Homo sapiens: one gene and its partner. The protein of the gene in region 1 purifies or fractionates together with the protein of each later gene. This does not show direct contact. Each region holds a gene or a part of one and is shown on either strand. Other genes may lie near its edges.

What was found. The genes of interacting proteins can lie anywhere in the genome.
Region 2: the proteins of REST (region 1) and HNRNPA0 purify together in Homo sapiens (affinity purification with mass spectrometry, with the first as the bait; one large-scale study listed by BioGRID). This does not show direct contact.

Annotation. Positions count from the first base shown.
Region 1 is NC_000004.12:56,916,932-56,922,056, reverse strand, and holds part of REST (RE1-silencing transcription factor), read right to left. Parts: intron 2,271-5,125; coding exon 2,187-2,270; intron 1-2,186. UniProt on the Homo sapiens protein: Transcriptional repressor which binds neuron-restrictive silencer element (NRSE) and represses neuronal gene transcription in non-neuronal cells.
Region 2 is NC_000005.10:137,744,316-137,748,585, forward strand, and holds the end of HNRNPA0 (heterogeneous nuclear ribonucleoprotein A0), read right to left. Parts: 3' UTR 1,336-4,270; downstream 1-1,335. UniProt on the Homo sapiens protein: mRNA-binding component of ribonucleosomes. Specifically binds AU-rich element (ARE)-containing mRNAs. Involved in post-transcriptional regulation of cytokines mRNAs.

The DNA.
Region 1 (5,125 bases):
CAAGAAAGGCTAGCAACTATACTACAGGACACCTTCATAGCTGTTCAAATAAATCAGAATCTGTGACATAATCAAGTCTTATTATCAAGTCTTGTTACTAACTCATGGCAGCAATGTCCAGTAGAAATATAATGCATATCACACATGTAATCTTAAATTTTCTAGTAGTCATACCACAAAGGTAAAAAGGAAACAGTTAAAATTAATTTTATTACTTTTTAAAGCCAATGTATACAATAATTTTGCCATATGATCAACTTGAAAAATAAATATTTAACATTCTTTTATTTTTTCTCTAACCTGCTTCAGAGAAAGATAGTCTTTTCTTCACATTGTTTGAAATCTGTGGCCGGGCGCGGTGGCTCACACCTGTAATCCCAGCACTTTGGGAGGCCAAGATGCGCAGACCACTTTAGGCCAGGAGTTCGAGACCAAGCTGACCAACATGGCGAAACCCCATCTCTACTAAAATTACAAAAATTAGCTGGGTATGGTGGCACATGCCTGTAATCCCAGCTACTGGGGAGGCTGAGGCATGAGAATTGCTTGAACCCCGGAGGCAGAGGTTGCAGTGAGCTGAGATGCGCGCCACTGCACTCCAGCCTGGGGGATACAGCAAGACTCTGTCTCAACAGAAAAAAAATAATAATAAAATAAAATTTAAAAAATCTGGTAAGTACATATTTTATAAGTATCAATTCAAACTACTAATGTTTCGAAAGCTTAATAGCCACATGTGGCTAGTGGCTACTCAAGCGAATAGCACAGATCTAAGCTAATTATTAACTTAAGGGAGATGGTTCTACATAGGCTTTTGTAACAGCAAGATTTAAGATACTTTTCCCACAGGGATATACATTCTAAATCTGTATTCTAATTAGAAGTGGTAGTTCGGCCAGGCATGGTGGCTCATGACTGTAATCCCAGTACTTTGGGAGGCCAAAGTGGGTGGATCATGAGGTCAGGAGTTCGAGACCAGCCTGACCAACATGGTGAAACCCCATCTCTACTAAAAATACAAGAATCAGCCGGGCATGGTGGTGCGCGCCTGTAATCCCAGCTATTCAGGAGGCTGAGGCAGGAGAATCGCTTGAACCTGGGAAGCGGAGGTTGCGGTGAGCTGAGATCGCACTACTGCACTCCAGCCTAGACGACAGAGCAAGACTCCGTCTCCAAAAAAAATATAAAAATAAAAAGTAAAAGTGGTAGTTCACCAAGAGTCAATCAGGGCTACCCATTCAAGCAAGACCACCAATGCTAACATTACTTTTTAACTTGGCCACTTGAATACTTTGACAATAGGGACTTTTTTTTCAAGATAGAGTTTCGCTCTTGATGGCGTGATCTCGGCTTACAACCTCTGCCTCCTAAAGTTCAAGCAATTCTCTTGCCTCAGCCTACTGAGCAGCTGGGATTACAGGCATGCGCCACCACGCCTGGCTAATTTTGTATTTTTAGTAGAGACAGGATTTCTCCATGTTGGTCAGGCTAGTCTCAAACTACCCCGCCTCAGGTGATCCGCCCACCTTGGCCTCCCAAAGTGCTGGGATTAAGGGCGTGAGCCACCATGCTGGCCAACAGGGACTAATTATGAGTGGTGATGGTGATTGTTTCAGTCACTGGAGTGGACGAATCTCTCATGTTACAGTCCTATACTCTTAATACAGCTTAATAAATTGGCATCCTAGATTGTCTATCATTTTCTTTTTCAAGCTAAACTTTTGCAGTCAGTCCTCAAAAGCTCGACCAAACCTTGAAACAGAACAAACCTTCATTTCAGGACCTGAGAAGCTAAGAAGGAATCCCTGACACTTGTCAACCACACGTTGTGACTCTCAGCTTTATACTGTTAGGAGAAATATGAGAAGTAGGGGTTAAAAGATCAATCAGTCTTGGTCTACATTAGTTTAACTTTTGTTGGAGTCACGGAACGCTTCAAAGATTTGATGAGAATTAAGGCCCCTCCTCCCAGAAAAAGTGTACACAAAAATTCCATTTTCAGGAGGTCCACCTTTGGATTCCATGTTAGGAATCCCCAGATTGACGGAATACTGATTTTTAAATTCTGACTTCTAAATTATATTAAAAATAAATAATAAGTAAATGACTCGGTTACAAGTCTAAAAGAATTTCCTTAAAATGGTCATTTACTGAAAATGATAGAAAAGTTCCAATTTCTTACCAACCTGAATGAGTACGCATATGTCTAGTTAGATGAGTCTTCTGAGAACTTGAGTAAGGACAAAGTTCACATTTATATGGGCGTTCTCCTGCAAAATTTCAATAATATAAGAGTGTTTAAATGTCACGAAATAGCCAAATACAATTCTCACTAACAATGCAACAATGTTCAGCGCTCAGCACATTTTAACAAGAATTTTTTTTTCCTATTTCTGGCAAAAAGATCAATTTATCATGTACTTAAAATGTAAGTTATTTATTTCAGAAACTATGACTACATTATTTTGGCTTTGCTGACAAGAAAACAACATTGACTTTCCGAATTCTCACAGCCCTTTTAATTTTCACAGTGATACTGCATGTTAATACATTAAGTAGTGATAAGTAAAAAACTATCTTGATAAGGTACAAAGCATTTTTGTTATATTAAGAATCACCTTTTAAAAAATCTACCTGAACTGTCTGATGCTATTAACACCGGTTTTTAGGTTTTTTTTTTAACTTGTAAATGATGAATCTACTACCATTTGAAAGTGTTAGCTTAAAACAATACTTCTGAGTGAGAATGTAATTGCTTTATGCTAAAAATTTTCAAGTGGTAGAGTTCCAGACCAGCCTGGGCAACACAGCAATACCTCATTTCTAAAATTTTATTTTAAAAACTAGCCTGGGGCTGGGCACGGTGGCCCACGCCTGAAATCCCAGCACTTTGGGAGGCTGAGGCTGGTAGATCACGAGGTAAGGAGTTCAAGACCAGCCTGGCCAACATAATTAAACCCCATCTCTGCTAAAAATACAAAAAAAATTAGCCGGGCATGGTGGTACGTGCCTGTTGTCCCAGCTACTCGGGAGGCTGAGTGAGACTTCATCTCGTTTAAAAAAAAAAAAAAAATAGCCTGGGCTGAGCATGGGGATTGTGGCCCCTGACTGTAACCCCAACACTTTGGGAGGCCAAGACAGGCCAATCATTTGAGCCCAGGAGTTCAAGACTAGCCTGGGCAACATAGCAAGACCTCCTCTCTACAAAAAACAGAAAAATTAGCCAGGCGTGGTGGCGCATGCCTGTGGTCCCAGCTACTTGGGAGGCTGAGATGGGAGGATTGCTTGAGCCCAAGAAGGATGAGGCTGGTGTGAGCCATGATTGTACCACCGTGCTCCAGCCTGGGTGAAAGTGAGACCCTGTAGTCTCACTTGGGAGGCTGACGCGGGAGGATCACTTGAGCCCAGAGTTTGAGGCTGCAATGAGCTATGACGGCACCACTATACTCCAGCCTGGAGTACAGAGAGAGAGCCTGTCTCTAAAAATAAAAATAAATAAAAAACATTAAGCTAAAAAGAAAAATTTAAGAGAAGGTCATCAATTTTCTTTTTATTGTTTTTTATGAGACAGGGTCTCGCTCTGTTGCCCAGACTGGAGTGTGGTGGCATGAACGTAGCTTCTGCAGCCTGGACCTCCCGGGCTCAACAGATCCTCCCACTTCAGCCTCCTAAGTAGCTGGGACCATAGGCGTGTGCCACCAAGCCCAGCTAATTTTTTTTTTTTTTGGGTAGAGACCAGGTTTTGCCATGTTGCCCAGACTGGTCTCGAACTTCTGGGCTCAAGCAATCCGCCTATATTGGCCTCCCAAAGTGCTGGGATTACGGGCATGAGCCACCATGCCCAACCAGTCATCAATTTTTAAAACAAATTATAAAAGCCACAGGGACTGAAGACTAGAGGCCAGTGATTTAATACTGAAGAATTTAAGACTCAAAGGTAGGAAACGTATATTCTTTTTAGACATGGCTGTCAACAACAAAACAAGCCTTTTTTTTTTTTTTTTTGAGACGGAGTCTCACTCTGTTGCCCATGCTGGAGTGCACTGGTGAGATCTCGGCTCACTGCAAGCTATGCCTCCTGGGTTCACACCATTCTCCTGCCTCAGCCTCCTGAGTAGCTGGGACTACAGGCGCCCGCCACCATGCCCGGCTAATTTTTTGGTATTTTTAGCAGAGACGGGGTTTCACCTTGTTAGCCAGGATGGTCTCGATCTCCTGACCTCGTGATCCACTCACCTCGGCCTCCCAAAGTGCTGGGATTACAGGCATGAGCCGCCACACCCGGCAAAACAAGCTTTTAAAAAAAGGTATACAATTTGTTTTAATATAGTCTCCAAACACAAGATAATTATGACCTTGGTAAAGCTACTAAAACACCGTTTCCCCATCTGTAAAAGTAACAGAATCTTCATTTCCTGTAATTGCAAAAGCTTAAATAATACATGCAGAGCATTTAACACTGTGTCTGGCACATAGTAAAGCCCTCAATAAATGTAAGCTATCAATTTTGTCTAAGACAGAAACAAATGTGTCTAATAAAATAAGGAAAAGGTGGTACACAGAAAAAAGAACAGGCCAGGCATGGTGGCTCATGCCTGTAATCCCAGCACTTTGGGAGGTAGGCGGATCATTTGAGCCCAGAAGGCCGAGGCTTCAGTGAGCCGTGACCACACCACTGCACTCCACACAGGGCAACAGAGCGAGACCCTGTCTTAAAACAAAAAACAAACAACAACAAAAAGAATGGTGATAGATGGGAAATGTGTTCCTCATAACTATTCTGCTGTAATTCGCTGGTAGCTACGAATTAGCTGTAAAGAGTTGGTAGCAACAGAATGCCTACCTTATGACCTGGAACAATTAAGATAGTTTTATGTTAATGGAATTCTGTAAAAAAAAGATTTACAAATAGCCAATAAACACATGAAAAGATGAACATTATCATTAGCAGTGAGGGAAATGCAAATCAAAACCACAAGGAGATGAAGACTTCATATCCACTAAGATAGCTGTAATCACAAAGACAGATGTTAACAGTATTATTGCTAAGGATGTGCTGAAATTGGAACCCTCACACATTGCTGGTGGGATTGTAAAATGGCATGGCTAATTTGGAAAACAGTTT
Region 2 (4,270 bases), on another chromosome or scaffold:
AAAAAAATATTTAAAAGATACAATTTTTTCATCCCACTACTTTAATATACTTACATATTTATTATGTTAAATAATATATTTTTTCATTACAATTTCTATTGTGGTAAAATATACATTAAATTTGCCATTTTAGGCCAGGTGTGGTGGCTCACACTTGTAATCCCAGGATTTTGGTAGGCTGAGGTGGGAGGATCACTTGAGCCCAGGAGTTCAATACTAGCCTGGGCAATATAGCAAGACTCCATCTCTACAAAAAGATTTTTTAAATTAGCTAGCTGTGGTGGCGCGTGCCTGTAGTCAGTTCTAGCTACGGGGGAGGCTGAGGTGGGAGGATCACTTGAGCCCACAGTTCGAAGCTCCAGTGAGCTATGATCATGCCACTGCACTCCAGCCTGGGCACCAGAGTAAGACCCGGCCTCCAAAAAAAAGAAAAAAAGCCATTTTAACCATTTTTAAATATACGATTCATCAGCATTAAGTACATTCATAATGTTGTATAACAATCACCACTATCCATTTTCAGAACTTTCTCAACATCTGAAAAGAAATTCTGTATCCCTTAAACAGTAATTTCCCATTTCTATCTCTCTGAATTTGCCTACTCTGGGTACCTCATTTAAGTGCAATCATAGTATGTCCTTTTGTGCAGGCTTATTTCACTTGGCATGTTTTCATTCATCTTGTAGCATATACCAGAAATTTATTCTTTCTTATGGCTGAATATTCCATTGTATGTATATACCACATCTTGTTAATTCATTCACCTGATAACACTGAGTTAATATTTCACCTTTTGACAGACCACAGTTAACATTTCCCTAATATTTGACATTTAGTTTCCAATTTTTTGCTACGTCATAATTTTTATGCAAAGACTGTTTTCCTTTCAATAAATTTTTCAATAAACTGTTCTGTTAAGGTTAAATTCCTAGTAATGGTGTCCCAGAGCATATGAATACTTTAATAGTTCTTAATAAATAAATCCATAATTTTACTCTCCTCATTTGCCATTTTTCATAACCTGATGGACAAATTCCGGTCAGCAGTTTGTTACAAATGTATAAAGTGTGACAAAACCAAATGGAGGGAAGCTTTTGGAGAAAGAAAAGGAATTAACAAAGCAGAAACAGCTCAGAAGAGCTCTCCACTAGACAGAGCTGGCTGACTTCTGTGACAGGTTGCCCAACTGCTCCTTCTATCCATAACCTGATGTTTTCCAATTAACTTGGTGACTCTTTGAAAAAAAAAAAAAAAATCTGCCTGTGTCAGGGATCCCCCGGACCAAGCCCATATTGAGATTTGATAGAAGGGTTCACAAAACTCAGCACTGCTAAGTATCGTACTCATGGCTAAAGTTTATTACAGTGACACAGTAAGTGTACACAGTTGGATCATACAGGAAAAAGACATAAGCAGAATCTGGAGGAATCCATGTGCAGGCTTCTTTAGGATCTCTCCCTCCCATGAAGATTCACACAGAGCACATTTTTATACGAGGGATGTTTCTGCCTAGGGACTCAGTATGCAAGGTTTTCATTGGGAGTTTGGTCATATAGACATCCTTTACCTGGCATGTACCAAAATTCCATACTCCCAGAAGGAAAGCAGGTGTTTAGCATAAATCATCTTGTTTGAACAGTCTAGGTACAGTGAACCACCTTTATTAGTGAACAGTGAGAATACCCCTAAATCCACGTGTTCAGATAAGGGCCAACCATGCAAGTAGGCCACTCTAAAAGATACCAGCCTCAGGCCAGATATAACTTTTTCTGCACACCCCCAATTCAAGATTCATTTTGGCCAAAAAGCAGCATCTCTCAACATATATATGTAGATACCTATGGTAGAGTTGAAAAGATTGTGGATCACTTATACCTTATCCAAGTAGTTCTGATTGCTTTCCTTATAAACCTTCATTGAAAGCAGCTGTATGAAAGGAATAGGAATTTTGGGAAACACATCTTTTAAAATTCAAATCAGATCATGGAACTCCTCTGCTCAAAACTGAAATGGTTCACCATTCATTTAGTGAAAACCAAAATCCTTACAACAACCTACAAATCCCTACATGATCTGGCCCCTCTGGCCTCATTATTCCTTTCCTCCTCTTCCTTCAGGTCCAACAACCCTGAACAATTTGCATTTCTTCAGAGGCCAGACACAGTCCTGCTTCAGGGCTTTTGCTCTTCCTAATCCTCTACCTAGAATGCTCTTCCCATACCTATATTGCTCACTCCCACATTTCCTTCAAGTCTTTGCTCAAATGTCACTTTCTGAGAGACCTACCCATACCACCTATTTTAAAGTATGCTATCCTCACAAACATCCCTTGCAACAATCGCCATTCCTCACCCTAATTTTTTCTATACTTCTCATCTTCTAACATACCATATAATTGATTATGTCTTATTGCCTGTCTCTCCCCAGTAAAATATAAGCTCTTTGAGGGCAGGGATTTTTGTCTTTTTCTTCTGTATTTCCAGCACAATCACCCAGCAGAAGAGTAACAAATTTTAACTTGACATACTAAGAAACAGGGAGGCACTGAATTTAGGGATAGTAACCTAGTGCAAATAGCTAGATCTTCACGTTTGGTGGTGTGGGAAGATCAAGTCATAAGAAAATGTGAAAGAAGTTTTTTTTTTTAATTTCACTGAAGAGATGACCACAGTATATTCAGTTATTGAAGAGTTTTAATAAAAGGAACTATTTACAAGGGTATGGGCACAGTTAAGGCAAATCAACAAGGTTTGAACCTTCTTGGGACTAGAGAATCTAGCAATAGGAGACAGTTACGAGAAGCCAGAAAAGACCTAGAGCTATAAGAGGGCCACTGGAGCAGAGCTGTGGCCACTCACAATCTCTTGCTAAGTATATGAGAAAGAGAAGGAGCAAATATTTCAGCCTCACTTTTCTATCACTGTCCAAACCCACCATGAATAAAGCCAGAAAAGAGAGTATGCAGTTCTTTATTTGTCAGCCTCCCAGGAACACAGAACAAGAGAGATAAAGATGGAAAATAGATCAGGAAGGGCAAAAAGAATATCCAGCACAATGGCCATTTTGTAAAGCTATATGCGCAAGACACAATGCTTCAATGTGCTACCAGCATCTTCAACTATGTCCAAATCTTCCCTCTAAATCTTCTCTTCCTATTACCAGTGGCATCACCATCCTCTCACACAGTAATTTTGATTAATCTACTCTCTCTTCCTCATTCTTCATATATCCAAATATTTGTCAATTATGCTTTCACAACTTACCTCAACTTCTTTGTCAGTCTATTTCCATTGCTCTTTGTTCATGCTCTCATTCTCTTACCTGGTTAACATCAGTTGTCTTAGCAAACTTGCCACTTTGAAACATCCCCCACTGCCATTTATGTTACTCAGTGCTACTGGACTAATCTTTGTGAATTAGTTTCACTACCATTATTGTTGCTCAAAAACCTTTAATGACTTTTACTGCCTACCCTAAGTCCAAACTCCTTAGCCTACTACTCAAAGACCTCAGTAACCTGGTTCCAACTTCATTTTCTCAATTTATTTCTCACAACTCTCTTTTATCTTAGTACAAATTAGACATTTGTTAGCTGGAAGTCAATGAAGCTTAGTAGAAGGAGCGAAACAACTAGAATTGGTCAAACTTGGATTCAACTCTCAGTTCTACCATGTCACCAGCTGGGGGTCCTTGGGAGTTACTTTTCTGGCATGAGATTTAGCAACCTTATCTGTGAAGGTTACTGAATGATGCAATGAGAACATTTGTAAATGTACCTAGTGTTTGGCATCCAATATGCATACTTCTCCAAATACGCTCCATGTTTCTGCCTATCTGTCCTCCACCTAAAATGCCCTCTTTCTCCTCCCACCTTCTCTATAAGACCTATCTTTTAAGGTTAAATGTTATATGCTCCACAATGCCTCTCTTGATCCTTCTTCCTACCTGAAGTCACCTCTCCTCAACACTCACATTATTTATACCTTCCTAATATTAACAAATACTTAAAACATTACAGATGGCTAGCAGAATTCATCTCTCTCCTACTAGAGTTGAAGCAGCAGTGATTTAGAGAACTACCACATGGAAGCTCACCCAGCAAGTAAAGAGCAAAGCCTAAAGACCATGCATATCTCGGGTACTAAGATATAAAAGTATGCCTTTTGCTAGTCTGTCCCACCTCTTCATTAGGGGCCATATAGTAAAATTACTGTGTACCAGAGACTACAGTAAGCCCTTCTTTATATGCATTCTTTCACTGAATCTGCCC